Linked DNA regions of Homo sapiens: region 2 is linked to region 1. Evidence: fine-mapped expression QTL. A gene starts in region 1. The other region holds a variant in brackets. All regions are shown on one strand. Distances are from middle to middle.

Evidence for each region. PIP is the estimated chance that this variant, and not a neighbour inherited with it, causes the effect.
Region 2: its variant is fine-mapped to the expression of CRYM in caudate (GTEx, PIP 0.98).

What each region holds. Positions count from the first base shown.
Region 1 is chr16:21,271,124-21,282,443 of GRCh38, forward strand. It overlaps CRYM (crystallin mu), which reads right to left and starts at 7,167. Exons shown (of 8, transcript NM_001376256.1): 1 at 6,959-7,167; 2 at 6,308-6,461; 3 at 4,409-4,471. The coding sequence starts at 7,128. RefSeq lists an enhancer at 6,959-7,168.
Region 2 is chr16:20,420,575-20,431,894 of GRCh38, forward strand. ACSM5 (acyl-CoA synthetase medium chain family member 5) reads left to right here. Exons shown (of 14, transcript NM_017888.3): 5 at 684-827; 6 at 3,342-3,495; 7 at 7,214-7,293; 8 at 9,104-9,227; 9 at 10,419-10,499; 10 at 10,646-10,747. Among named protein-coding and RNA genes, the nearest start is that of ACSM5, 17 kb to the left of the region's middle. The variant C/T (reference allele first, on the strand shown) is at 4,975.

The DNA of each region.
Region 1 (11,320 bases):
GGGAGGGGCACCAACCTGTGTATTATAGGATGTGCAACAGTATCTCTGGTTTCTATCCATTAGATGTTAGTAGCATTTTCCACCCCTTCAAGTTGTGGGAACTAAAAACGTCTGCACACTCCTAAATGTCTCTGGAGCAGGTGGCAAACTCATGCTCAGTGGAGAACCACTGGCATAGAGGAAAGACATCACTTGGCCCTCGACACCATATGTATTAAATAAAACCCTCTTCTGCCTTTTCTCTATTCCATTTAGTAAACTTTGAGTTCCCTGTGGTCTGTTCTTTTATAAAATGCTACTCACTGGAATTTTGGAGTATAATATTTAAAAAGTGAAAAGTCTTCTTAACTACTAATTACTAGCAAAACAGCATCTCTGAAATATTAGGAATTAATTTTATCTCCTGCAGCTACCGAAGGAGAGATACCATTCTGTGCCATAAAATATAGTTTAACGTCTCTGATTTGAAAAGGTTTCAAAATGATAATATCCACAAGACTAGAAATCTTATGTTGCTGTCTGATAAGGATAATTAGATTTTTTTCCTTAATTGTTACCATTTTCTTCTGTTCTCAGTTAATATGAATCTATTCTTGAAAGTACAGGTGAGCTTCAGAAATTGTTACAGTATCCCATAAAAATAACCTTCAACTTCCTAAACTAAATGTGTAATTCTAATTGGTTGTCTTACTTGATAATTTGTTGCCCTGGTAATAGTGTGATAATTGATATTTTTAAAATTTTTTTTTTTTTCCGAGACAGTCTCGCTTTGTCGCCCAGGCTGGAATGCAGCGGTGTGATCTCAGCTCACTGCAACCTCTGCTTCCTGGGTTCAAGCGATTCTCATGCCTCAGCCTCCCGAGTAGCTGGGATTACAGGTATGTGCCACCATACTTGGCTAATTTTTTTTTTTTTTTTTGGTAAAGATGGGGTTTCGCCATGTTGGCCAGGCTGGTCTCGAACTCCTGACCTCAAGTGATCCACCTGCCTCGGCCTCCAAAAGTGCTGGGATTACAGGTGTAAGCCACTGCACCCAGCCGATTTTTAATCATATGTTTATAAGATTTATTAAACAGCATTAGTGGCACTTCAATCTTTTCTCCTAAGCATGCAGGTTATTAAGTACACGTATATGAATCTGCTGGGTTTCTCATTTAAAGAGTCTGAAAGTCTGTTTCATTTGCATTTGCCAAGGCCTTGCATGGTCTGGCCCTCCTATCTCTAAAGCTGTCTCTCATACCACCATGCCATGTTCCCCTGCACTTCCTGTCTTCCAGCCATACTGGCTTCCTTGCAGCTTCCCAAGCTCATGTACTTCCTTCAACCACAGGGCCTTTGCATGAATTAATTCCTTGCCATACGATGCTAGGCTGCTTTGTCCCCTCTCCCCCTCACAAGTAACTGATTATCCTTCAATCTCAGCTCAAATATCCCCTACAGAGACACAGCCACAGGCTAGATCAAGACATACTGCTTTACACTCTTACAGCACTTGTCAGCGTTGTAGTTTCATATTTATTGGTGTGAATTTTTTTTTTTTTTTTGGAGACTGAGTCTCACTCGTTGTCCAGGCTGGAGTGCAGTGGTGTGATCTTGGCTCACTGTAACCTCCGCCTCCAGGATTCAAGCAATTCCCTTGCCTCAGCCTCCCAAGTAGCTGGGATTACAGGCACCTGCCACCATGCCCAGCTAATTTTTTTTTTTTTTTTTTTTTTTTTTTTTTTAGTACAGATGGGGTTTTTCCATGTTGGTCAGGCTGGTCTTGAACTCCTGACCTCAGGTAATCTGCCTGCCTCAGCCTCCCAAAGTGCTGGGATTGCAGGCGTGAGCCACTGCGCCCAGCCTATTGATGTGATCTTTGGACTATATCTTGCCTCCCCCACTGGACCCTGTACTACATGAGGGCAAGTACTGTATCTGGTTTTGCTTACCCCATGCTGAGCGCAGAACCTTGCATTTGGTGGACACTCAAATATTTGTTGAATAAATGTATGTTAGTGCTAAACCCTAATATATACTATCACCTTGAGAAAACATATCAGAGGCTTCAATGAAGCTTATGTGAGACCCAAGCACAAAAAATGTATTATGTTCATCAGACCCTAGAGCTCCGTATACTTATTCTCCCCAACAAGAGCCCTAAATAGAAGAGAAATGATGGACAAGAAAATATTCTACTCTCAAGGCAACAAGTAAAATAGACCCTTTGTTCCTTATTGAAACAGTTCATCTGAGCCCCTGGAAATAAAGCTGTGAAGTTTCAGCCTAAACTTTGAAGTGTCTAAACTTTGAAGTGTCAACCCAAGGCTTCTTGATTCTTCTGGGAGCACAGATTTTTATTAATGCAACAAAGCAGTGTTATTGCAGGCTGGGTCTACAAAAGTGTGGTTTCCAGACCTGGTTGATCCTCACTCTGTGATTTTGATTCAGTAGGCATGGGAATTTGAGTTTTTAAAAACTTCCCTAGCTAATGCTGCTGCATAGCTTGCTTCTGTTGGAAACTTCTTATCTGGGACAAGACCATGTGGCCTCAAAAGGACCCGCAGGAACCTGGTTGTATGACTTCAGGAAACCCAAGTTTCTATTCTTTTATGCGTAAAATGAGGCCATTAATACTTTCTCTGCCTTCCTCACAGAAACTCGTAGTCCAGACAAGGGGCTGGAAATGAGTTTGAAAAAGACTAAAGCTCTTTGCAAATGACAGTAATACAAGATTCATTCTGTTCCCAAATTACCAGCAAACATAGCAAGGAGTCCTTGATTACTTCAGTTGAGTCAGGTCTGGATATAACTAAAAACCAGTTCATTGAGGTGGGTGCTGTTGGTCTACTCCCTTCGCATACAATTACCAGATTAATCCTCCCATTCTTCCCTCCCCAGCAGGTATCTAGAAAACCTCGACATGCAACCTGAACACCTGGTCTTTGCTGCTGCAACTTTCCCTGGGTTACCACGTTTCCTTTATAATAACTTAGGAAAACCAGTGTCCCAAGACCTTGTACTTCCACATTTAATGTGAAAGACTCCAGACTCCAATCGTTCCCACAGACACCCTGTTTCCTAAGCCTCATCCTCTTAACTCTAACTTTTAAAAATGCTGTTTTTCTTATAGGATGCCTTGACATTGCTTGGGAACATCATCACCCCCATTGCTTACTGTTCCCTCTGCCTGGAGTGCCCCTCCGTGTTTTTGCATGGTTCGCTAACTCACTGCTTTCAGCTTTGACTCAAATGTCACCTTCTCAGGGAGGCCTTTCTTGGATAATGTAAAATGTGACAGCTTCTCCAATACTCTCACTTCTGCTTTATCTTCACCTAACATGTTATGTGGCTTTTTGGATTATTGTTGGTTTTATTTTTTAGCAAATTCTAAGCACGCTATTAATCATTTATTAATATGTACTAATTATTTAATTACATATTATTTATTACTATTTAACACATTATTAAACTCAACAGATGTTTTTGTTTGTTTTGTTTTGTTTCCTTTTTGTTTTGTTTTTTAAGACACTCACTCTTTTGCCCAGGCTAGAGTGCAGTGGCTCGATCTGGGCTCATTGCAACCTCTGCCTCCTGAGTTCAAACGTTTCTCCTGCCTCACTCTCCCGGGTAGCTGAGATTATAGGCGCCCACCACCACGACCAGCTAATTTTTGTGTTTTTACAAGAGACGAGGTTTCACCATGTTGACCAGGCTGGTCTCCAACTCCTGAGCTCAAGTGATACGCCTGCCTCAGCCTCCCAAAATGTTGGGATTACAGGCGTGAGCCACTGTACCCAGCCTGTGTTTTCCTTTTTATTGGTATTGTCTACCTCCCCTGTGTGTGCCCCTCTGTTTTTCTCACTGCCATTTCCCTAACATTTAGAACAGTGCCTGACACATGATAGAAGCCCAGTCAATACTTGTCGAATGAATACAGGGATCTGGCTTGGATATGTTCAGTTCACTCAGCCTCTTGTGTAGTACTAGCTTTGGTCTATGGGACAATTATACTGTCTTACCAGGGGCAATGTGGTACAGGGACAAGAAGCCAGTCCTGGAAGCCAGAGAGGTCAAGTATTAAATTCTTACTCTAGCACTTATTAGCTGTGTGATCCTGGGCAATTCACAGAAGCTCTCTGAGCCATATTCCTTGACCTGGAAGGTGGAGAGAATTTCTCATTTCGATTCTTCAAGACTGATGGGAAGATTGAGAATTATGCACATAAGGTACTTGAAATCTGGTCATGCACACTAATTGGTAGCTAATAATTTCGTGAATTACTGATATATCTGACATCTGGAGTTCCAGCTATGTCCAACAGGAAACCAAAATAAGTTCCCCACTTCTCCTTTAGTCTCTCAAGATTGAGACACCAGACCCCACTTGACAGCTCACCTTAATGGTACAGCCAGCCATTCATCTTACCTTGGTGGCAATGGCAGAAACTGCAGCTGTTCTCTTTGCAGTTATGACATTTCCATCCATGACCTTGGAGGAAAAGAGAGACAGTGAGCAAGGGGAACCCCTGTCCACTGCATAAATTAGAAGAAACAGTTCTAAAATATTAGCTTAGGAAGTTTTATAGCATCCTACAAACAGCATGGGTTTGGCGTCAGACCTGGATCCGATTCCTCCACTTACGAGATATGCAACTTTGAACAAACACTTTAATCTTTAAGCACTGGTTTCCTCACCTGTAAAAAAGATAATGCCAGCCATTCAGAGGGTTATTGTGAGGATTAAATGCACTGGCATATCTGGAAACATCTAGCACATGGTGAGCCCTCAAGAACTGCCCATTTTCTTTTCTTGCCCTAGGATTCTCAAAACACCAAATTAAGAAGGAACTAGAGAGAGAAGGTTGCCAATTGACATCTGGACAACGGCCATGAAACTCTTAGTGGCTCTCCGTTCCTGCTGCACATGTGGAAAGCTTCGTGAAGATGCTCAGATACCACCCTTAGATTAACCCAGTCTGTATCTCTTCCAGGAGTGAGACCCAGACAGCCCAGGTGATTCCGATACACAGCGAAGGTTGAAAATTATGCCTCGCTAGTAAAAACCATCCTCTGCACTCCTCTCCCTGTTATTCATCTCAGCTGATCATCAAAAAATAGGCATCATCAACCTCATTTTACAGATGAGGAAGTGAATCACGAAGTCACTGAGCAGATTCAGCTGTCATCTAGTTTCAAAGCCTTGGGTTCTACCCCCCTAGGGAACCGCTGTTGGCAGGTAGTATGAATGCCATCTCGGTTGGATGAGTGTAAGTTGGGGAAAGCTAGATATTCTCAAAGGAGTGTTAAACGGCCAGATTATTTGGCGATCCAGAAATTCAGGGGAAAAGGAGGGACATTGTAAGACCCAGCTTGGAGCGCACAGACCTTAAGAGTTAACTGTCACACCTGGGAGTGATTCTTGAGTCTTTCACTAACCAGATGTGTGACCTCAAGCAAAGTGACTCTACTAACCTGAGCCTCAAGGACCTCAACAGAAATTGGGGGGAAGGGGAGTTAATAAAAACACCCATAGAGGAATTTTGCAGAATTGAATGTGATCAGCGTCTCCTTCTTGGCACATAAGTGCCCAATATGTAGCAGTTAAAATGGCGGTGGTCTTAGAAGAGTCTGGACCTATGGACCGTGGACTTAGACTGAGCAGCTCTGAAGTCCAACCATGCTAATTGTTGGTTACATAAACCTCGGTAAGTTGAACATAGTTGCTCTGACTCGGTTTCCTCATCTATAAAGTGGGAGTAATCATATTACCCATATCATAGAATAGTTTTAAGTATTAAGAGGATTAATAAATGTGAAATGTTTAGAAAAGTGCCTGATGCATTATAAAAAGTACTCCATAAACACAAGCTACTGCTACCTTTTGAAACTATGATTAGATATTAAAACAGGTCACACCGTATACCCCTCTGAAGACTCCCAGGGATTATAGAACACCCCTTCTTTTCCATGTCGACAAGGATTCAGTAAGTAAGTCTTCCCTTGGCTAATGGGTTCATTCAAGCTGCGTATTTGGGGCAACTGAGTATAGGACAAGGACATATGCAAGAATGACAACAAGATTATTATTTCCACACTGTCACATGCTTGAGGCAGCAGTGGGCGCTGGTGCCGTGTTATGCATCCTCAGGCAGTCCTAGAAATAGATACATGGACACAGATAACCTTCACTGTTGCTGGTATCCAGTCACTTGCAGAGGGGCACGCGTAGTCACAATCAAGACTCCCCCTGCTGCGGAGAACTTACTTTTGAGCTTCAATCTGGGCCCAGGGGCCCCATTCCACCCCGGGACAGGAAGTTGCTCACCGCCAGCAGGGTGCCATTGCTGGGCTCAAAGAGTAGCACAGTAGCCTGGTGGGAAGGGACGACCGAGGTGATGCCGCGGTCCTCGTAGAAGGTGACCAACTTGGTGGTCAGTGCATCCTCTGCAGCACTGTAGGCGGGCATGACCCCCAGGTAGCTACAAGGAGAGAGGGAGCAGCTTCAGCCCCTTCCCATCAATGCTGGGGTCTCTTAGAAAGTATCCATATACTTTCCTTTTTCTTTCCTTCCTCACCACCCCACTGGCCCTCTTCCAGCCCCCGCATCCCTCTGCCCTTCCCTTAGACACTATGCACAGTATGTTCAGAAGTCTGGCTCTGGATCAGAAAACCTTTCCAGCTCTGCCACTTAGTAGCTGTGTAAGCTTAGGTAAGTCACTTAACCTCTCTGAGTCTCAGTTTTCCACCAATCAAATGGTGGTATCAATACCTCCCTAGGTGGAGAGTGTGCTGAAATAAACAAGGTAACACCTGTAAAACGCCCACTTAGCACACCGGGTAGCGCCTATTAAAAGTGGCAGCTGTTAGCAACGGTTAGGCAAGCCGTCTCTTCCCTTCTCCCACCCCTCCTCTTCCTGCTCCTCCTTTCCCCGCTTTCCAGTTTCTCCTGCCCCTGACCCCGACCCTCCTCACTCACCCCCTGTGCTTGGTCACCGGCACCACGGTGCGCACGGGCTGCATGACCCCTCCTTCGGGACCGCTGGAGAAGTTGGCCAGGGCCGTCTCTAGAGGCGGGATGAGGAGGCTGGAGCTGCGGAGGTGTTCCTCCACCTCGGCCGCGCTCAGGAACGCTGGTACCCGGCTCATCTCGCCACCTGTGCCTTCTAACCTCAGTCTCCGCACCGCGATCCACGTACCCTCGGCTGTGCCCTTTATGAGCGCGCCCGCTGCTCTGTGGAGCCGCCTGCTGGTCACAGCCCAGCCTCCGGGGGCGGAGCAACCCCGCCCCGCCCCGCCAGCCCTCTCCTCCCCCTTCGCCCACCTCGACCCCTAAGGGTGGGCGAGATGGGTCCCTTCCAGCAACGGATTCCCCAAGATGGACATCGCGGTGGCGTGCTGGGAGTCAATATTGTTTGGTCCACTTTCTCAGTTCCTGTAATCAGCTGTAGCCACATTCCTTGACTTTTGCTTCCTACATAACCCCTCCCTATTAACTCGCTTTTTGCTGCTGTCTAGGTCACCGTGCCTGGGAAAGAATGGACAGGGAAAACGCTAACGGGGCTCCTTTATTTATTAAATTACTGCCTACTGCTAGGAGATAAAAGGAGACGGAGGCTTATTTAATTTTTTTTTCCTTTTAATTCTGTCCCCGTCTAGAGTCTCTTATCCTAGTCTTCCTCCCCCCTGTACCCCCAGATGTCTGGCCTTTGATTGCTAAGAACGCACAGTTTTCTCACAGGCTAACTAACCTAACAAACCTTCGCCTTTAAAGGGGGGAAGTTTGCAGGGCAAGGTGTAATCTTTTCCATCTCACAAAAAGCCAAATTGCAGGATCTTTTCTTCCAGGAGTTTTTACCTGAGATGGGGAAATAAAATCGGAAAGGAATGATGTAAAGCTTAAGGCAATAAATCCTAGTCATCAAATCAGTGATAGGAAAAGTAAGTTAATTCAAAGAAAAGAGAGATGATTTTGACCTGGAGTGGTTAGATAAGGGCTTCATGAAAGAGTGGGGAGAAACCAAGGTCTGAAATAATAATAGTGACGACAACAATGATAACATCAGGTTATTGATCTTTACTATGTACCAGATACTGCACCATGCACTTTATGTATATTATCTCATTTAATTATACAACAACCTCTAAGGTAGGGAGGTGTTGTTATTAGTTTTACTGTCCATTGGAGGCTCTGAGAAGGGAAGAAATTTAGTTCAAGGTCATCCACCAAGTCAGCAGAGGAGCTGGCTTTGCCCATGGTTGGACTTCAGAATTATATTCCTAATCATTAAGCTACTTTGGCAGAAAGAGAGGAAGAGGGCATTACAGGCCAAGTAAAGCCCTGAGGTGGAAGGCATGTTGAATAGCTCTGGGAACAGTGAGTTGCCAGATGTGTTAGGCTGGAATAAGGTGCTGAGGTCTAGGAGCATCAGAAGATAAAACTGAGAACGATTCTTGGAGTCAGGCAGCTGAGAATGGTGATTCCTAGGAAAGAAATTACATGCTCCAAGAGAGTAAGCATTTAGAAAGATGGGTCTTCTGCCAATGCAAAGGATGGAACAGATGAGCGAGAGCAGAGCCTGGGAGAAGGTCAAGAGGCAGGACTGCTGAAGTTGTGCTTTGTGGTATTTTGGTTGGAAGCTACATAGGGCATTTTGTAGGAAATGGTCACATCATGATAAAAGACAGTGGATGAGTAAGTGTCAAAATCAGTACCAATGAAATGAGAAATTGTACATAATGTGTTTAGCAACAGTGCTTGGCACAGAGTAGCCATGTAATAAGTGAACACTGAGAGAGAAAGAGAGAGAGAGAGAAGACACTGGTGGTTGGGAAAAGCTGATTTCAATGACACAATTTTGTTTCTTCGGTTCACCATCCCTAGAAATTTATGCCCAGAGCCGCTGGGCTTATAGAAATGTTTCTGGCCCATCACGTGTGCTGTTAGCATTAATATTACATCACATTTATTGGGTTTAGAAAGCACAGACATATAGCCCTGGCATGATAGTTCACGCCTGTAATCCTAGCACTTTGGGAGGCCCAAGTGGGTGGATTACCTGAGGTGAGGAGTTCGAGACCAGCCTGGCCAACATGGTAAAATCTTCTCTCTACTAAAAATACAAAAATTAGCTGGGTGTGGTGGCGGGTGCCTGTAATCCCAGCTACCCAGGAGGCTGAGGCAGGAGAATTGCTGGAACCCGGGAGATGGAGGCTGCAATGAGCCAAGATTGCACCACTGCACTCCAGCCTGTGTGACACAGTAAGACTTTTTTGGCCCTTTGTTTTTGTGAATGTGAACTAAAAATAAAATCCTATGCCCCCCACCTACTGAATGAACCCCCTCTGGGCCAAGCAGACCCCAGAAAAACCTTAAAGACTTAGTTTCCAGCCATGATGGGATGGCAAATCAGATATGCCTCATTACATCCTCTCCCTTTTAGAGTTTAGACACAACTGAGCAGCCTTAATGTTAATACAGAGATCACAAGACTGACAGAACAGACTCTTTGTGGCAATACGATAACAAATTATAAACAGGATCTAAGGCCATGCCAGGAAGGGTTAAGTCACGCACCCTTACACTTAAAGAAAAAAGCTATGTTCTAACTGCCACAGAGTTTTTGTTTTCTCCAGCAGCTAAACAAGCACTGGCTTGAAGATAAGCAATATTTTTGTTTTTGTTTTCCCCAGCCCTGCTCAGAGAAGATAGGGAACATGGCTTGGGCACAGTGGCTCACACCTGTAATCCCAGCACTTTGGGAGGCCAAGGCGGGCGGATCATGTGAGGTCAGGAGTTTGAGACCAGCCTGGCCAACGTGATGAAACCCCATCTCTACAAAAAGTACAAAAATTAGCCAGGTGTGGTAGCATGTGCCTGTAATCCCAGCTACTCAGGAGGCTGAGGCAGGAGAATTGCTTGAACCAGGGAGGTGGAGGTTGCAGTGAGCCGAGATCGTGCCACTGCACTCCAGCCTGGACAACAGAGTGATTCTCTCTCTCTCTCACTCTCTCTCTCTCTCTCTCTCTCTCTGTATATATATATATACACAAACATATATGTATATACATATATACGTATCTATGTATCTATATAGATATGTATATGTATCTATGTATCTATATAGATATGTATATATGTGCATATATATATATATAAATTTTTTTTTTGAAACAAAGTCCCTCTCTGTCACCCAGACTGGAGTGCAGTGGCATGATCTCAAGTGATTCTCCTGCCTCAGCCTCTCAGGTAGCTGGGATTACAGGTGCATGCCACCACCCCCGGCTAATTTTTGTACTTTCAGTAGAGATGGGGTTTTGTCATGTTGGCCAGGCTGGTCTCGGTCTCGAACTCCTGACCTGAGATGATCCACCCGCCTTGGCCTCCCAAAGTGCTGGGATTACAGGCATGAGCCACCGTGCCCGGCTGAAGATATGCAATATTAAAACAATTACAACTCATCCAAATCACAGATATTGACTAACCGACCCCTTGTTCCACCAGCCATAACTACAGCTTGATTGGACAAGAGACTGATTTCAGTAACTTTCTCCTGATAAGACTACCGACTATAGGATGGTTCTGGCTGACTTACAGAGGTTGCACACTTGCATGCCTTCATGTCCTGAAAAGACCTTTTGACGTATCAGGCTGAATTGTAATACATTTAAATGCTGCAACCACCCCAAAATGAACATGAGTTGTATGTAACATGCATGTTTGTTAAATACACATGCATCAGGACCACTTTCATGAATATTCATAGCTTCTTCTCTCACCTGTTGAATATGTATATTTAGCCAACCTGTTGAGCATAAAGCTCCTACCCCAACCCTCCTCCTTCAAAGTGCCTGTCTCTGATCTTGGCCAAGGCATGTGATATGGTTTGGCTCCATGTCCACACCCAAATCTCTTCTTATAGCTCCCATAATTCCCACATCTTGTGGGAGGGACCCAGTGGGAGATGACTGAATCATGGAGGCGGGTCTTTCCCCTGCGGTTCTGATGATAGTGAATGAGTCTCACGAGATCTGATGGTTTTAAAAATGGGAGTTGCCCTGCACAAGCTCTCTCTTTGCTATTGCCCTCCATGTAAGATGTGACTTGTTCCTCCTTGCCTTCCACTATGATTGTGAGGCCTCCCCAGCCATGTGGAACTGTAAATCCAATAAGCCTCTTTCTTCTGTAAATTGCCCAGTCTCAGGCATGTGTTTATAGACAGCATGAAAACGGAATAATACAGCGTGCTTCCCAGCATAGGATCCCACCTTGCAGGCTGTAACCTCGTATAAGAAAGTCTCTTCTTGTCTAAATTTATAAATTGTGTGGTTTTTTTTTTAA
Region 2 (11,320 bases), 850 kb before region 1:
GGGCAACAAAAGCGAAACACCATCTCAAAAACAAAACAAAAAAAAATCGGCTCATATGATTTTGAGAGCTGTCAGGTGGGCCTAGATCAGTGGTTCTCAATTTTGGCTGTTACTAGAATTACTGAGAAGCATTTAAGAAAACATTAAAGATTCTGATTTTATTTTGTTCAGGGTGGATACAGACAAGTTTCTTCCAAAAATTTACCAGGGGACTTCACAGTGCAGCCAGGGATGAGAGCCCGTGGATTAGCTGATCATCCAGATCACAGAACTTTGGGAATTACCTAGATCTCAAAACCCCATATTGGGGGAAACCTTTAGAAAAGAGTTCTAAATTATTAGAAATTGGGATGGGGGTGGAAGCTGTGCCTAAATGTGCAGAATTATAGACATGGACATGTGTGTGTTCTACCAGAAAGTCCTCATACCTTGGTAAGAAAGCATGGACTCTTTTGCGTGAATTATTTATCTATTTTGAGCCTCAGTTTCCTGGTCTGCAAAAGGGTTATAATGATAGTACCTACCCCATGAGGTGGTTGCAGATTACCCAAGCCAGAGCTTTCAGCACAGCACCTCACATGTGGTATTTATGAAACGGTAGTCATATTGTTGTTACACATATTATTGGTGCTACTAACTGTTTTTACCGTGGTAGTGCCACCTAGTGTATTTACGTTTTACAGGGAGGCTTCTACAGAGCACAACTGCATGAGGACAAAGAGTCGAGACCCGCTGGCCATCTACTTTACCAGCGGAACCACCGGGGCCCCCAAGATGGTCGAGCACTCCCAGAGCAGCTACGGACTGGGTTTTGTGGCCAGCGGAAGGTACCAGAGCAGCTTGTCTAGAGGATCCAAGAACAGAAAGTGGGGAGTGGTCTGGAGGGGGTGGTGTGAGGGGAAAGGTGTCAGGAACGGAGGTCAGAGAGCCAACAGAATTACTGAGAAGCCAATAGGAGCAGCTTAGGAAGGATCTTGATGGTTCTGGATTTTACTCTGAGTGAGGTGAAAAGCCATGGGAGGTTTCTTTTTAAATCGTGGCTATATATATATATATATATATATATATATATATATATATATACACACACACATATATATACATACATACACATATAAACATATATATACATATATCATAAATGTACCCTTTTAACCATTTTAAGTGTACAGTTTAATGTCATTAAATACATTCACATTGTTGTGCAACCACAATCACCATCCATTTCCAGAATTTACTTTATCTTTCCAAATGAGAACTGTGCCCCCATTACCCAATAACACCCCATTACCCTCTCCCCTCACCCCTGGTAACCTCTATTTTACTTTTCATCTCTGTGAATTTGATACTCTAGGTATTTCGTGTAACTGGCATCATGCAGTCTGTCCTTTTGTTTTGCAATTTGGCTTCTTTCACTTAGCATAATGTCCTCAAGGTTCATCCGTGTCATAGCATGTGTCAAAATTTCCTTCCCTTTTAAGACTGAAAAATATTCCATTGTATGGATAGACCACATTTTATTTATTTTTATTTTTTATTTTATTTTTATTTTTTTGAGACAGAGTTTTGCTCTTTTGCCCAGGCTGGTGTGCAGTGGTGCGATCTCCACTCACTGCAACCTCTGCCTTCCAGTTTCAAGCAATTCTCCTGCCTCAGCCTCCCAGATAGCTGGGGTTACAGGTGCCCGCCACCACACCCAGCTAATTTTTGTATTTTTAGTAGAGACCGGGTTTCACCATGTTGGCCAGGCTGGTCTCGAACTCCTGACCTCATGATCCTCACGCCTTGGCCTCTCAAAGTGCTGGGATTACAGGCATGAGCCACTGCACCTGGCCTCGACCACATTTTAAATAATCCATTCACCTGTTGATAGACACTTGGGTAGCTTCCACATTTTGGCTATTGTCAATAATGTTGCTATAAACACTGGCATGTGAGTATCTGTTAGAGTCTCTGCTTTTACTTCTTTTGGATATACATGCAGAAATGAAATTGCTGGATCATATGGTAATTCTATGTTTAATTTTTTTTGAGAAGCATTGGGTATTTTGAGCAGAGGAGTGACATAATCTAATATGTTTTTTAAAGGCTCACTCAGGATGTTGGGTTGACAATGTAACTGTAGGGGAAACAGGTAAAGAAGATGACCAGTGCATTAAGAGGCAAGCATGGTAGCTTGCCCGGGGAGCAGTAGTGGGAGAAGAGATGAGATTCTGAATGTATTTTCAACCTAGACCCAATAAGGCTTGCTGACAGAATCAGTGTGGAATGAGAAGGAGGAGTCAAGGAGAGCTCTAAGAGGAATGGCCTGAACAACTGGAAGCACTAAATGATGGGGGAAGAACTGTGGGATGAGCTGTCTGGTGGCAAGAAAACAGTTTGTTTATGGAGTTGTCAATTTGAGAGTCTTCTTAGAAATCTCCATCTCCTTGTTAAAAGTGGAGATGTTGAGTGGGCATTTGGATACACATGTCTGAAGTTAATGAGAAAGATTCATGCTGAACTTATCAGTGTAAAGATGGTATTTCATACCATGAGATGGGATGAGATCAGCAAAGTGTAATATAAACTGAAAAGAGAATGGGTCTCAGGACTGAGTGCCCGAGGCATTTCTGCACTGAAGGGGAAGACCAGGAGGACTCAGCAGAGGAGACTGAGAAGGGAACAGCCAATGAAATGGGGAGAACCAGGAGTGCGCGTGTCCCAGGATTCAAGTGCATGACCGCTTTTTATGTCTTCCATGTTTGCAGACACTGTTTCCCATTCCTGGGATGCTCCTGCTTCTCTGCCTCACCTATATAATCCCTATTTATTCTTTATGTCTAACTCAAGTGTCACTTCCTCTACCAGAGCATTTCTCAGAAACCCATGTCCATCATTGCTCTGGGTTAGGTGCCTATTCTCTATAATTGCACAAGGCTTTGTGTTTAGCTCTATTAAAACATGCTCTCCAGGGGCTTCCTATAAGGCCCTCAAAGCAAGACTAATCGTTCATTTCTAGATCCCTAGTGCTAAGTCCAGACTAAATGCTAAATAAATGTTGGCTAAATAAAGTGACCTTAGCACAGAGTATTGAGGTTAATTTTTTCCCCTTATATATCACATCCACTGGACTGTGAACTTTCTGGAAACTCTTTTTGCTTCTGTATTCTTAGCCTAGGGCATAGGTACATGGAAGATGCTGGTTGAGACAATAGTTGACTTGATGGTCTTGTTCAGGTTTCACAAGTATAAGTGAGTACCCACTGAGCAGGGCTCCAAATGTGGTGATATAGATAATACAATCCTTTTTAAAGGTAGAGTCATTGCCAAGGTTACTGACGTTCTCTAATTTTTGGCAGACGGTGGGTGGCCTTGACCGAATCTGACATCTTCTGGAACACGACTGACACTGGCTGGGTGAAGGCAGCCTGGACTCTCTTCTCTGCCTGGCCTAATGGATCTTGCATTTTTGTGCATGAGCTGCCCCGAGTTGATGCCAAAGTTATCCTGAATGTAAGAGGAAAAACCAACAATACCCCATATGTGTTGGGTACAAATGAGATGAGTGGGATATAGATTTCAGACTGCAGGAGAAAACACATAAATCAGTGAATTTAAGGCTTCTTTGGTGTGGCTCCCTGGCCTTCCATAATCTGGTTCCTGACCACCTGGTTCCCTTCAATCATTGCCTATGCTCTAGCTACATTCCTAGATGTAAGACCATTTTGTTGCTATTTCTTTTGCATGGGGTGCCCTTGTTTCCACCACTTTCTTCCCTATGCTCCTGCCAAAACCCTAGGTATTTGTCAAACCCTTAGGCAAAATCAGTCTATGCCTCAACTCCAAATGCTACTGTCCATGGTTCTTAACATGAGTAGTTGGCCCAACTAGAGAGTCCTGGTGACTCCTGCTCAGCCTCTCAGGGTCTTCTCATGGGGAGGGAGGAGATTGGTGGCCCCAGTCAAGACACAGGTCACCTTTCTTCCACCCCCCACATCCTGTCATTCCTTAAAATGTCAGAGGACACTTCTGCTCATATTATTTGTACTGAGATAAGCTGTATCACATGGTAGCTAACTGCATAGGCTGTGCCATCAGTCAAAGAGTCAGACCTGGACTCTGATCCTACACCTTTGATTCGCTAGCTGTGTGGCCTTGGGGAAGCTGCTTAATCTCCTGAGCTGCAGTTTCAGCCTCATCTGTAAGAAAGGGATACATTTCTCTATAGATTTGCTGCGAGAATGAAATGATACAAGGCAAAGGGGCCAGCACATCATAGGTTCTTTTTTGAAATAATTTTTAATTTTTGTGGATACATAGTAGGTGTATATATTTATGGGGTACATGAGATGTTTTGATGTAGGCATGCAATGCGTGAAAATCACATCATAGAGAATGGGGTATCCATACCCTCAAAGCATTTATCTTTTGTGTTACAATCTAATTATACTCTTTCAGTTATTTTAAAATGTACAATTAAGTTTTTATTGACTATAGTCACCCTGATGTGCTTTAAAATAACAGGTCTTATTCATTCATTCTATTATTTTGGTACCAACTAACCATCCCCACCTTTCTCCCAGCCCCCGACTACCCTTCCCAGCCTCTGGTAATCATCCTTCTAATCTCTATTTCCATGAGTTCAATTGTTTTGACTTTTAAATCTCACAAATAAGTGAGAATATGTGAAGTTAGTCTTTATGTGCCTGGCTTATTTCACTTAACATAATGATCTCCAGTTCCATCCATGTTGCAGCAAATGACAGGACCTCATTCTTTTTTATGGATCCATTGTGTATATGTACATCTTCTTTTTCCATTCATCTGTTGATGGACACTTAGGTTGCTTCAAAACATAGTAGATTCTTTTTTTAAAAAAAAATTATTTTCATAGGTTATTGGGGAACAGGTGGTGTTTGATTACATGAGTAAGTTCTTTAGTGGTGATTGTAAGATTTTGGTGCACCCATCACCTGAGCAGTATACACTGCA[C/T]CCAATTTGTAGTCTTTTATCCCTCACCCCCTTCCCACCATTTTCCCCAAGTCCCCAAAGTCCATTGTGCCATTCTTACACCTTTGCATCCTCATAGCTTAGCTCCCACTTATGAGGGAGAACATAAAATATTTGGTTTTCCATTTCTGAGTTACTTTACTTAGAATAATAGTCTACAATCTCATCCAGGTCCCTGCGAATGCCATTAATTCATTCCTTTTTATGGCTGAGTTGTATTCCATTATATATATTTATATACCACACTTTCTTTGCCCACCTGTTGATTTATGGGCATTTGGGTTTGTTCCACATTTTTGCAATTGCAAACTGTGCTGCTATAAACATGTATGTGCAAGTATCTTTTTCATATGACTTCTTTTCTTCTGGATAGATGCCCAGAAGTGGGATTGCTGGATCAAATGGTAGTTCTACTTTTAGTTCTTTAAGGAATCTCCACACTGTTTTCCACAGTGGTTGTACTAGTTTACATTCCTACCAGCAATGTAGAAGTGTTCCTTGTTCACTGCATCCATGCCAACATCTATTATTTTTTGATATTTTGATTATGGCCATTCTTGCAGGAGTAAGCTGGTATCACATGGTGGACCAAATATAGTAGATTCTTAACCCATATTGATTGTTATCATCATGATCAAACTCATCACCATCATTATCCATGTAGTGCTTGATCAGCCAATGTATGGACCTTCTCCTTGCACTGTCCCCAGCTCTGATATAGTGTTTTCATTATCTATTGCTATGTAATAAATTATACCGAAACTTAGCACTTTAAAACACAAGCATTTATCTCACAGTTTCTGATGGTCAGGAAGCTGGAGGTAGCTTAATGAGGGGTTTTTGGAGCAGGGTCTCTCATGAGGTTGCAATCAAGAGGTCAGCAAGGTATGCTCATGTTCATAGCAGCATTAACAATAACTAAAAGGTGAAAGCAACACAAGTGTCCATCCACAGATGAATGAATAAACAAAATGTGGTGTATATGTACAATGGAATATTACCCAGCCTTAAAAAGGAAGGACATCTTGTTGTATGATATAACGTGGATAACCCTTGAGGACATTATGCTAAGTGAAACATGCCAGTCATACAAGGACAAATACTGTATGATTCCACTTACATGAGATTCCAAGAGTAGTCAAATTCATAGAGACAGAAAGTACAATGGTGTTTACCAGGAGTTAGGGGAGAGATTAATGGGAAATTATTGTGTAATGGGTACAGAGTTTAAGTTTGAGAAGATAAAAATAGTTCTGGAGGTGGATGGTAGCGATGGTTGCACAACACTCTGGAAATGTTTAATCCCACTGGACTATACACTTAAAAACCGTTCCAATGGGCAAATCCTATGTTGTGTGTATTTTGCCACAATAATTTTAAAGAAGATATTTGCTAGGACTGCAATCATCTTAAGGATTGACTGAAGCTGGAAAATTGCTTAAAAGTTCACTGGTGGCCGGGCACAGTGGTTCATACCTGTAATCCCAGCACTTTGGGAGGCCAAGGCGGGTGAATCATGAGGTCAGGAGTTAAAGACCAGCCTGGCCAGGATGGTGAAACCCCGTTTCTACTAAAAATACAAAAATTAGCCGGGCCTGGTGGTGGGCACCTGTAATCCCAGCTACTCAGGGGTCTGAGGCAGAGAATTGCTTGAACCCGGGAGGCAGAGGTTGCAGTGAGCTGAGATCTTGCCACTGCACTCCAGCCTGGGTGACAGAGTGAGACTCCATCTCAAAAAACCAAACAAAAAACAAAACAAAAACCTCACTGGTGGTTTTTAGTAGACTTCAATTTCTCACTGGGTGTTTGCTAGTCTCCAGTTTCTCACTGTGTGCACCTGTCCGTAGGATGGCTTGAGCATACTCAAAACATGGTGGCTTGCTTCCCCCAGAACAAGGGATCCAAGAAAGGCAGAGAGAAAGAATATCCAAGACAGAAGCCATAGTCTTTGTATAACCGAATCTTGAAAGTGGTATTCATCACCTTGGCAGTATGCCATTGCTGTCACAGACCCACTTTGGTATGAGGTGAGAGGGGATCCTCCAAAGGTGCACATGCCAGGAAGTAGGAGTCACTGGACACCATCTTGGCTGCTGGATTCCACACATAGTTTTCAGCTTCTCTGCTTTGGTACTGAGACTATAAAGATGCATTTGGCTCCATCTTCATGGTCCCACCCCAATGATTCTAAGGACATCTTTCACCCTTTGTTTTTGTTTAGACTCTCTCCAAATTCCCGATAACCACCCTCTGCTGTGTCCCAACCATCTTTCGGCTGCTTGTGCAGGAGGATCTGACCAGGTACAGCCCGTCTATTTCGTGCTTTGAGGGCCTAAGTATGTGAATATATAGCATGGGTATCCACACACACAACTACCCTCTCATTCCAACTCTCTTTCTTTCTCTGTCTCTCCCTCTATATATTTTTCTGCCTCTCTCTTTGTCTCTCTCTCACACACACATTTATACACGTACACATTGACAAGTCAACATACCTGTAAATCTCACAGATGCCCCTCAAGAACAAGCTTCTGGCCCCCCAAAATTTGCATCCAGATGGAACTAAATAGATTTAAGGCAGACTGAAATTTTAGCACCTGAGATAGGCTTCTCCTCACACCATACACCCATGGGCTATTCTGTCAGCAGTGTGTCTGCTACTTCTGTGAGGCGAGAGAAATGATTGGAAAATTGTTAGCCACCTGTGGAGTGGGGTCTGTGGCCAGGGCCCTCAGGTGTGGTGAAACTAACAAGCCCGCACCGCAGTAGATGCCCCAACTCTCAGCCTCAGACTAACCCCAGCCAACTGTTCTCTGAGCACATGCCATTGGGCACCCAAGAGAAAGGGACAAGGCACTGATGATGGCTCCATCCTGGGTGAAGCCAAAGCAACATCTTCTAGCAGAACAGGGCTGGTTGCTGGGGTATATGGAGAGAGGCCCACTGTCCTTCAGTATCCACCAACCCTGACCTGTTCTCCCTCTTTTGTCCTCCCGTAAGTCATGAGGAGTCGTCCTCTCATCTTTCCTAATCACATGAATCTACCCACCAAGTGTCCAAAAAAGGGAGTTCTTACATGCTTCTAAAAGTGAATTCTTCTCCAATGTAAGAAAATCATCCCATTCATTGATCTGATGTGTGCATCTCCACATGATGATTTTGGCTGAAAGCAAGCTCCAAGTACCTCGTTAAGAACAATGTCGTTGAATGCTCTTTGGTAATAATAAGTAACTTAATCAAGCCAATTTGATCTCCCCTCTCCTCCAAGATTAAAAATGTACTTGCAGTCACTGTTCTTTTTTATAATTTGGATGATTTGTTGAACAGAGAGGGCATTTTGCAACATAATTAATATCTGTAGGAATTTTTGGGATTCTTAGGGGTCTAATTTTTATCTTTTCCATTTTCTTTTCTTTCCTTTCTTTTCCTTTTTCTTTTATTTTTATTTATTTATTTATTTTAGAGACAGAGTCTTGCTCTGTTGCCCAGGCTGGAGTGCAGTGGCATGATCTCAGCTCACTGCAACATCTGCCTCCCAGGTTCCAGCTTTCCTCCCACTTCAACATTCCAAGTAGCTGGGACTACAGGCATGTGCCACCATACCCAGCTAATTTTTAGTATTTTTCGGTAGAGACGGGGTTTTACCACGTTGACCAGGCTGGTCTTCAACTCCTGAGATCAAGCAATCTGCCCACCTAGGCCTCCCAAAGTGCTGGGACTACAGGTGTGAGCCATGGTGCCTGGCCTATCTTTTCAATTTCTAATTCATCTATCCTTTTCAATCAGATTACTGTCCTAACCAATTTATTATCAGTTTTTTTCCAACTAAATTATTTTGGCCAAGTTACCTGGAACTCACCATATTATGCCAAAACCTATTATATGAGCTTCTGATTTTATCTCAAACTCAGATAGGATGGATCTTTTAAAAATTATCTGTCCATGAGGAGCATGGTTGCAAAGCCAGTGGGTGGACTCACTTAGAGAAGATTAAAAAGCAGGGGCATCTACCCTCTAGTGCCTGTGGTGTTTGCATCTGGGCAGTGGCACCAGAGGGCGGGGTGATATGAAGATCCTGACATAGGTGGCCTTGTTTTCCTGTCTGAGAAAGGTACCAGTTTCAGAGCCTGAGGCACTGTCTGACCGGAGGAGAGGCCCTCAACCCTGACGTGAGGGAGAAGTGGAAACACCAGACTGGTGTGGAGCTGTACGAAGGCTATGGCCAGTCTGAAACGGTGAGTGCTGGAGGGGCCAGGTCCCTACCCCCCAGGTCCCCTCGAGAGCTTCCTGCCTCTCCGGCTGTCACCTCCCTGAAGCTTCTCAGGGACCACCCTTCCCCCAGGGGAGAAGCTGATAACAAAATTCCATCAGCTTTCCTTCCCTTTTGATTTCCATATGTTCTCACTTATAAGTGGGAGCTAAGCTATGAGGATGCAAAGACATACAGAGTGGTATAAAAGACTTTGGAGACTCAGAAGGAAGAAGGTGAGAGGAGGGGCGTGAAGGTAAAAAAACTACGTATTGGGTATAATGTACACTACTCAGCTTACAGATGCACTAAAATCTCAGGATTCACCACTATAGAATTCATCCATGTTACAAAAAAACGCTCGAACCCAAAAAGCTATTGAAATACACACACACACACACACACACACACACACACACACTACTTATAAATTAAAAAAAGGTAATTTAAAGTACTTTTACAATTATACCATGACCAGCAAACCAGCCCTCACTGCTGAAGGCATTGTTTGTCTCCACCAAGACAGTCTACATCTGCCACTGTTCAGAGTCCAAGATTCTAAGCAGCGTCCTCTATAGTCATCTAGGAAGAGATCTGGGGATCAACTGAGTCTTTTGGCTTAGAGATGGGTTAAGTTCTTTATGTTTGAGTGCCCACTGGAGTGCCCCATAATTGTTTGTTAACTATGGAAAGAAAAGAAGAAAGACAGGCAAGAAAGAGGGAAGAAAATAGGAAGAAAATGAAGAAGGAAGGGAGGGAGGAAATAAAGGAAAGAGAAAGGAAAAGAAGGAGGAAAGGAAGGGAAAAAGATGAATGGAAGGAAGGAAATAGGGAACAAAGAAGAAGGGAGGAGAGAGGAAAATGGAGAATGAAATAACGGGGAAAAGAATGAAAAAAAGGAGGAAAGAAAATGAAGGAGGGAAGGAAGAAAACAGGAAAGGGGAAAGAAAGGAAAGAAAGAGGAAAGGAAGGAGTGAGCAAGGAAGAAAAAAGAAAAGAAAGAAGGGAGGAAGAATGGAGAGAAATGGAGAGAGGAGAAGGGAAAGAAAGAAGAAAGTGAGGGAGGAGAAAAAAGAGGATGAGAGAAAGAGTTATCAGGCAGGGTGAGAGAAAGGCATGGCCCAGGAAAGAAGCTAAGTGGAAAGGCTCTTCTTTATCTGTACTGCGTTCTCCCCAGGTTGTCATCTGTGCCAATCCAAAAGGCATGAAAATCAAGTCTGGATCCATGGGGAAGGCGTCCCCACCCTACGATGTGCAGGTAGCAGCCTCCCCCAACTTCTGGCAAGGCCTGGCATGGAGAGGAGAAAGACACACAGGCCTGGTTGGCACGGGCTGCTGGGCTGCTGGGAGAGGCCCAGGGTGTAGACACTCACGTATGCACCTCTGTGATGATTTCCTTACCAGATTGTGGATGATGAGGGCAACGTCCTGCCTCCTGGAGAAGAGGGGAATGTTGCCGTCCGTATCAGACCCACTCGGCCCTTCTGTTTCTTCAATTGCTATTTGGTAAGAGACGGGGAACAGCCGTTCTCATGACAGTGACTGTGTGCTAAGCATTGTGCACCACACTTTGTAAATATCTATTTGTTTAATCCTTACAATGACTGCATGAGGTAGGTTGCTACTATTATTAATAAAGTTCTGTTATTGATAAGGAAGACTATTATTGATAAGGAAGCTACTACAAAGGGGAAGTGACTTATCCAGCATCATGCAAATAGTACAGGCAGGACATGGGATTTAAATGTGGGTGTGTCTGAAAGCGTAAACATGACATGAGGGCAGCACTGTTGTTTTAATGAGGTGAAAATCGAGGTACAGTAAAGGAAAGGAGCTTCTGAAGGTCAAACTGCAGCCGGGTGCAGTGGCTCACATCTGTAATCTCAGCACTTTCAGAGGCCGAGGCAGGTGGATCACCTGAGGTCAGGAGTTCAACACCAGCCTGGTCAGCATAGTGAAACCCCGTTTCTACCAAAAATACAAAAATCAGCCAGGCATGGTGGCGCACGCCTCTATTCCCAGCTACTTGGGAGGCTGAGACAGGAGAATTGCTTGAACCAGGGAGGTTGCCGTGAGCCA